2 linked regions of the Homo sapiens genome follow. Changing the gene in region 1 together with any one later gene gives a genetic interaction. Each region holds a gene or a part of one and is shown on either strand. Other genes may lie near its edges.

The links.
Region 2: changes in RBBP7 (region 1) and SAP30 together harm fitness less than expected from each alone (positive genetic interaction), as found in Homo sapiens cells (one large-scale study listed by BioGRID).

The regions. Positions count from the first base shown.
Region 1 is NC_000023.11:16,860,363-16,863,862, reverse strand, and holds part of RBBP7 (histone-binding protein RBBP7), read left to right. Parts: intron 1-762; coding exon 763-908; intron 909-3,500. UniProt on the Homo sapiens protein: Core histone-binding subunit that may target chromatin remodeling factors, histone acetyltransferases and histone deacetylases to their histone substrates in a manner that is regulated by nucleosomal DNA.
Region 2 is NC_000004.12:173,369,764-173,373,753, forward strand, and holds the start of SAP30 (histone deacetylase complex subunit SAP30), read left to right. Parts: upstream 1-1,190; 5' UTR 1,191-1,419; coding exon 1,420-1,734; intron 1,735-3,626; coding exon 3,627-3,752; intron 3,753-3,990. UniProt on the Homo sapiens protein: Involved in the functional recruitment of the Sin3-histone deacetylase complex (HDAC) to a specific subset of N-CoR corepressor complexes. Capable of transcription repression by N-CoR.

The sequences.
Region 1 (3,500 bases):
GATACTGATGCAAAAATCACTGCTCGGACCAAGGTGCCAAGAGGTTTGGGCAAGTTCTTCAGCCTCAAGGTGTTTCCACAGAACAAGGTAACAAAGATACCTCGGTAAAATTGAGAATGTTCGTTTCATAAACTTAGGTATCATAAACGTCAGTGAGTTTCACATCATGCCATTTGCACTTATAGCCTATTTTATTCAGTGAAGAAACTGAGGCCCCAGGGAGGTTGTGTTTTAAGCAACTGCATTTTAGTTTGATCCAGGATTTAAGCTAAGTTTTTTTGATTCAACACTTTCTGTCCATACTACCTTGTAGAATTTCTTATTGGGAAATAAGAAACATCTAGTGTATAAGATATTTTTAGGTGGGAAGAAGATTTCTTTAGGTGGGAAGTTGTGATTTATGAGTGTGGGGATTGTTGGTGGATTCCTGTGTAGATGTTTGTCTGTGTTTACTGAGTTGGGCCTACCTTCCCCGGAGTGCTGCTCTATAAAAGGTAGTGTTCACGCTGATAATTGAGGCACAGGAGGATGGCTCTTTGGGAAAGAAGCAAGCCCTCTGCATGTTGTAGCTAGAATATTTTCTTATATTTGCATATGTGGGGATTGTAAAGTTGGTAACCAGAGGGGGAGAAGATACACAGTTGATGCTAAGTATATATTTGCTAAAGAAATATGAATGTATTTTGAGGGAACTAGACTGAATTTGTTAGCAATTGGAGATTTCTTGTAGGATTAGTGTGACTTATTTTCTTTCTTAAACAGACCTGAAGGAAAAGATTATGCCCTTCATTGGCTAGTGCTGGGGACTCATACGTCTGATGAGCAGAATCATCTGGTGGTTGCTCGAGTACATATTCCCAATGATGATGCACAGTTTGATGCTTCCCATTGTGACAGTGACAAGGGTGGTAGGTATATCATATATTCCAATATTGGTGTCAAAGGGAAAATGTCTCTTTCAAAGCATATGCTATTAAAACTATACTATTAGCTTTTGGCCCAGTAATTTAACTTCTAGGACTTTATTCTACAGAACTTCCCACCCACATGTGCACAAGGATTTTAGTCGTAATTGCAGAATTGAAAAATTAGGATCAACCTTGTAACCCAGATGTTGGTTCATAGAAAGTTGGTTAAGCACATGGTATGTTTGAAATACTACTCAGCAATTAATAAGAAAGGCCAGGTGCCATGGCTCACGCCTATAATCCCAGCACTTTGGGAGGCCAAGGTGGGAGGATTGCTTGAACTCAGGAGTTCAAGCCCAGTCTGAAAAACACAGACCTCATTTCTACCAAAAATTTAAAAAAAAAATTTTTTTTTTTAATGAGAAAAATCTGTAGGCACTGGTATAGGAAGGTATCCAAGATAAATTAAGTGACTAACTGCTATGTGTAATTACAGTATTCCACTTTGGTAAAAGTAATATGTGTTGGTGTGTGCAATGGGTATTTTTTGTTTGAGGAGAGAGGCAGTAGTGGTAGGGTTAATTCAGGAATCTGTTGGCTGCTTTTTTCTTTTTTTAATTTGTCAAACATATACTCTCCTGTTTTGGTATTCCCATGACCACCCCAAGTTTGGTGATTTTGCTAGGACTCCCAAGAGCAAATTATACTTGTGGCTAAAGTTTGTTACAGTAAAGAACACAAAAGCAGCAGGAAAAAGATGTACATCGGCAAGTTCAGGGAGGTCTGGCACAAGTCTTGTCCAAGGCCACACAGGATGTGTCTTCCGGCAGCAAACTGCAGGGACATGTGTGAAATATCTCTGCTCAGGGAAGCCTGTTTGGGTCTTGGGGTCTGAGGCTTTCTTGGGGGACTAGTTGCATAGGCACATCCTGCTGACAACCAGCCACAGCAACTGTAACTTGAGGACCCCAGTAATACAAACTGAGGACCCAGTAATAAAAGAAGGTACGTGTCATCAATCTTGATATCTGCAGAGTAACCCTGACAAACTGGTACAACGCGGTCCATTGCTCCAGGTGCACACCACAAAATCATCAGTTCATCAGTGACAGAAAGAACATTCTGAGGTGCATGTTCCCAGGAGTTAGCCAAGGGTCAGTAATAGGGTCCCAGTGTTCCTCAGAGACTCCAGGGCTAAGCACCCAGACTGCTGTATTAACTCTTTCTTCACAGTCCCAAATGGCTTAACGCTATTAGCACTTTCTAATATGTGCCTTAGGGTTTTTTTCTTATTGAAAATAAAATACTGGCCAGGTGCAGTGGCTATACCCATAGTCCCAACACTTCGGGAGGCCAAGGCAGGAGGAACGCTTGAGCCTGGGAGTTTAAGACCACTCAGGGCACACAGTGAGACATTGTCTCTATCAAAAAATAAAATTAAAAATCAGCCATGTGTGGTGGCGCATGCCTGTAGTCCTAGCTACTTGGGAGGCTGAGGATCGCTTGAGCCCAGGAGTTCGAAGCTGTAGTGAACTAGGATCACACCACTGCACTCCACCCTGAGCAACAGAGCAAGATCCTGTCTCAAAAATACTACATTCTCTAGTGTAGTGAAACTGCTAGGTTGTATGGTGTATTCATTGTCAACTTCATAGAAAACTATTTTCCAAAGTGATTTACCCAGTTTACTACTCCCACAATTTACTGTTCATTCCCCGACAACTGTATGCATTATTTCTTTAAATATTGGGGTTTTTTTGTGTTTTGTTTTTGTTTGTTATGAGGCAGGGTCTCGCTCAGTCGCCCAGGCTGGAGTGCAGTGGTGCAATCTCGGCTCACTGCAACCTCCACCTCCTGGGTTCAAGTGATTCTCGTACCTCAGCCTCAAGAGTAGCTGGGATTACAGGCGTCCACCACCATGCCCGGCTAATTTTTGTATTTTTAGTAGAGACTGGGTTTTGTCATGTTGGCCAGGCAGGTCTCGAACTCCTGGCCTCAAGTGATTCGCCTGCCTAAACTTCCCAAAGTGCTGGAATTACAGGCATGAGCCACCACTCCCGGCCTGAATATATTGTAATCAGAAATTTTTAAATGGCTTTTAGCCCTGAAGTATGTATTTACCGGGCTTGCAGTTTAACAGTCTCTGCATAATGATGTTAATATATTATTAAAGTTACACATCCAGTGTATTCTAACAAGTAGCTGAAATAATTCAGTTAATACCTTTGTTAATATTCAGTATATATATTTTTTTTTTCTTTTTTTTTTTCTTTTTTTTTTCGAGACGAAGTTTCGCTCTGTCACCCAGGCTGGAGTGCAGTGGTGTGACCTCAGCTCACTGCAACCTCTGCCTCCTGGGTTCAAGCGATTTCCCGAGTAGCTGGGACTACAGGCGCCCGCCACCACACCTAGCTGATTTTTTGTATTTTTAGTAGAGACGGGGTTTCACCTTGTTAGCCAGGATGGTCTTGCTTTCCTGACCTCATGATCCGCACGCCTTGGCCTCCCAAAGTGCCGGGATTACAGGCATGAGCCACCACGCCCGGCCAATATTGAGTTACATTTTTTAATGGATATTATCATTAAGACAGT
Region 2 (3,990 bases), on another chromosome or scaffold:
AGCTAACTAGTAAAGATGCAGCTTTCATATTAGCCACGCCCATCCCTCTCTCCGCCCTCCACAAGCACGTCCCCGCAAGCGCGCAGGAACATACACGCGTACGCGCGCACACACACGTACACACGCGCGCGCCCGCGAACACATACATACAAGCAGGCGCGCCCAAACGCCGGCAGCACACAGGCGCGCACGCGCTTTTCAGGACTCAGGAAATGCGCTTTCTGCTCCCCGCGCCCGGTAGAGCTAATGCAGGGAAGTTTCTGGGAACATTCGACCAGCGTTTGTATTGGTGAGGTTCCAAGTTTCCTTTAAAATGATATGACTCCGCCCTTCTCCAAAACCGTTTGAGGAGAAATGGAAAAGGTTGGGCGTGGAGGTGAAAAGGAGCCCTGTTGTCAACTGGTCCGTACTCCACCTCAGGAGGCGGCCAACTTGGTGCGCCCAAGAATAAAAACATTTCCCTTGTAAGAACATGCAAGTGTTTAGAAACGCCCCCCCACCCCCCCGCAAGGCGTTTGTGAGGGGGACCTGTCACAGTTGAGAAGTCAGGATGGGCGTTTTCCTCCCAGGAGGTGCCCTATTAATTTGCGGCCTCGATAGTTGGTCAAGCCGGGATGTTAGCTGCGGAACCTCCAGGACCGAAGAGCGCCAATTCTCCTGAGTTCTCCTTGGTTTGGGTTTCCCACAAAAGAGTGGTCACACCAAAAACTCTGTCTCCACAAATGCGAAACGGGCTCGAAACTTTTTTTTCCCCACACGATCACTTCCCACACCACTCCCATCCCTTTATGTTTCGCCTCAGGAGTCGAGGAACTTCTCTGAAAACCAATTCTACGATATTCCAGCAGCTAAACACAGCCCGAATTCCCTAGAAACAGAGAGAGCGAGAGAAAACACTGTAAACCCCAATCACACGCTCCTGTTTTCCCGGTACTGAAAAAAAAAAAAAAAAAAAAAAGTGGGTCCGTGGCCGCGCTATGCATGCTAGGATTAGTAGTTCCTCCGTCCCTCATGGCGCGGGGTCAGGGCGGAGCTCAGGTTGACTCTGCAGCAGAGAACTACAATTCCCATGGGGCCGCGCGGCAGAAAGAAAGGGGCGGGACGGGAGGGGGCGCGTCGCGCTTGCGCAGGTCCCGGGGCCGGAGGGAGGCGGAGGCGTAGCGGTCCAACTGCTGAAGTCCCCATGTGACAGTGAGCGGGGTCCCCGCTCCAGGAGACGCTCGAGTCTGCGTCCCGGCCCTCAGCACTGTCCACTGTTTCGGTGCCAGCAGAGACCAGCAGGCCCGGGACAGTTGGTGTTTGGCCGTGCCGCTGTCTAACTTGGTGTGCAGAGTGAATTGCCGCTGCCGGAGCGGAGAGAGGCGGAGCGGCCAGGAGAGAGGGGATTTCTGTCAGCGCCGGCCTCGGGAGCTCGGAGACATGAACGGCTTCACGCCTGACGAGATGAGCCGCGGCGGGGATGCGGCCGCCGCAGTGGCCGCAGTGGTCGCTGCCGCGGCCGCCGCCGCCTCGGCGGGGAACGGGACCGGCGCGGGCACCGGGGCTGAGGTGCCGGGCGCGGGGGCGGTCTCAGCGGCTGGGCCCCCGGGGGCGGCCGGGCCGGGCCCCGGGCAACTGTGCTGCCTGCGGGAGGATGGTGAGCGGTGCGGCCGGGCGGCAGGCAACGCCAGCTTCAGCAAGAGGATCCAGAAGAGCATCTCCCAGAAGAAGGTGAAGATCGAGCTGGATAAGAGCGTAAGTAAACCGCGGGACCGCCCTGCCCTCCCGCCCCTCGGTGGGGCCCCAGGAGCCGGGCAAAGGCACGGGTTGTCGGCGGGGTCCCCCAGACAACCGCACTGGCTGCAGTGCGGTCTCGTGGAGTCTGTGTTTGGAAGCAAATAACAAAGTCGCTGCAACTCCTACCGCCACCCCAACACACACACCACACACAGGCTGTCGTTCCCCTCTTCTTTCCCACCCTGGCCCCCAACCTCCCGCTGCCTGCGTCTCTCCCGCGCAGTCTTCCCTCTTCCTTCTCCTCTGCGACCGGGACACGAAACAAAGGGGACCGGCGCACTGAGGGCCCAGAGTAGTTTTCTTGCAGCCCGGCAGCTCTTCTGGAATGGAGGCGCCTTTGTTTTGCTGCCCAAGCTGGTGTTTGGCCCCAGGCGGTACTAAATCCCGTCGTCTAGGAGAAAGCGGAGGACCTTCACGAACAAGGAAGATCCTGTTCTTTTCTGTGTTCCGTCTCCTCCGGAGCGGAGTGAGAGGGAAGCCGAGCTCACCCGCCGCCTGGCAGTGAGCCGGGGTTGTAAACGGCGTTTGCGCTGTCAGCTCCGAGGGCAGCTACTCCGATGGTGGGGAGCACGTAGCCTCTGCGGTTTTGCCATCCCCTTGGCAGCCATCAGGATTTTTTGCACGTCTTTTCGTTTGACCATCTATGAGGTTTTTAGAAACAGCCGTTGCTACTTTTGGGAGATCTGGCTAGCGGTAAATGAATAACATGGTATCGAGAACCTACCACAAGTCCTGCATATTTTTATCTTGCGCTTGGCTTAGAAGTAAATGTAAAAGCCTGTTAGCTCAGTCCGTGTTTGTTTCAAATGCTAGTCTACAGCTCGCAGGAGTATATGTAATTAAAGTTTTTGAAAAGTTTATTTGTGACACTTTTTGCCCGTTTAAACAGTTTTCAGTGTTATCCATGAGAAACTCTTCAGGTGAACTTGCATAATTTCAGATTGTTTTGGAAAAATGTGTTATAGATAAATACATTGATTTAATATTCAGAAAAATGTATAACTGAAATTTAAATATAGTTTTGAAGTCGATGGCTCATTTGTGAAAACGAATGGTTTTGTATCTGGACTATAATTTGGGTATTCAGTTAGAAAGACTGGAAAGCATACATTATATTACTAAAATATGCTGTTCTTTTAAGTAGAGAAAGTACTGTCAAGTAGCAAAACTGTGAGCAACATCATCTTTCCCCTCATCAGTTAAAAATTCAACATGAACTAATTCAGGTCATCCTTACTGCTATCTGTTTGTTTATTTATTTAAGACAAAGTCTCACTCTGTTGCCCAGGCTGGAGTGCAGTGGCGCGATCTCGGCTCACTGCAACCTCCAACCACCAGGTTCAAGTGATTCTCCTGCCATAGCCTCCTGAGTAGCTGGGATTACAGGCTACTGCCACCATGCCCGCCTAATTTTTTGTATTTTTAGTAGAGACGGGATTTCACTATGTTGGCCAGGCTTGTGTGGAACTCCTGAGCTCAAGTGATCCACCCGCCTTGGCCTCCCAAAGTGCTGGGATTACAGGCGTGAACCACCGCGCCCAGCCCCTCACTGCAATTTGATGACAAAACCCAGAGGGTTGGAATTTCTCATTCTCCTCTCCCTCCCTCCCTTACCCCCTTCCCCAGATGGAACCAACCCCTCCTTCCCCATCCACCATCCTTTTAACAGTATTCCAGACATCTTATGTTTTAGCGTATAGGATTTAAACGTATAAATATTCCATTATCTTAACAATGGCCCATCTTGGCTGTCTTTATTTTTAAGAACTCACTGTGGCATATGTGTTTTACTAATACATAGACACATTTTACTGTAATCATAAGCAGTGTGTAAAACTTTTCTGTTTCAGGCAAGGCATCTTTACATATGTGATTATCATAAAAACTTAATTCAGAGTGTTCGAAACAGAAGAAAGAGAAAAGGGAGTGATGATGATGGAGGTGATTCACCTGTTCAAGATATTGATACCCCAGAGGTAGATGGAAGTTTTTTATGCTTAATGTAAATCCTAAGTAGTGCATTCTGAAGCCTTTATAAAAAGATATGAACAATCTTTTAAGTGTTTAAAACATTTGAGAAATCTGAAAATGAAAGCAAAATTAAATATAGCCAGTTGACATGCATTTACACAGTTTGAATTGTTACATTTTAGATTGACAATTTTTGCAGCTCTGTTGTCACATAACTTACTCTTTTTTTGACCTCAGTTTATA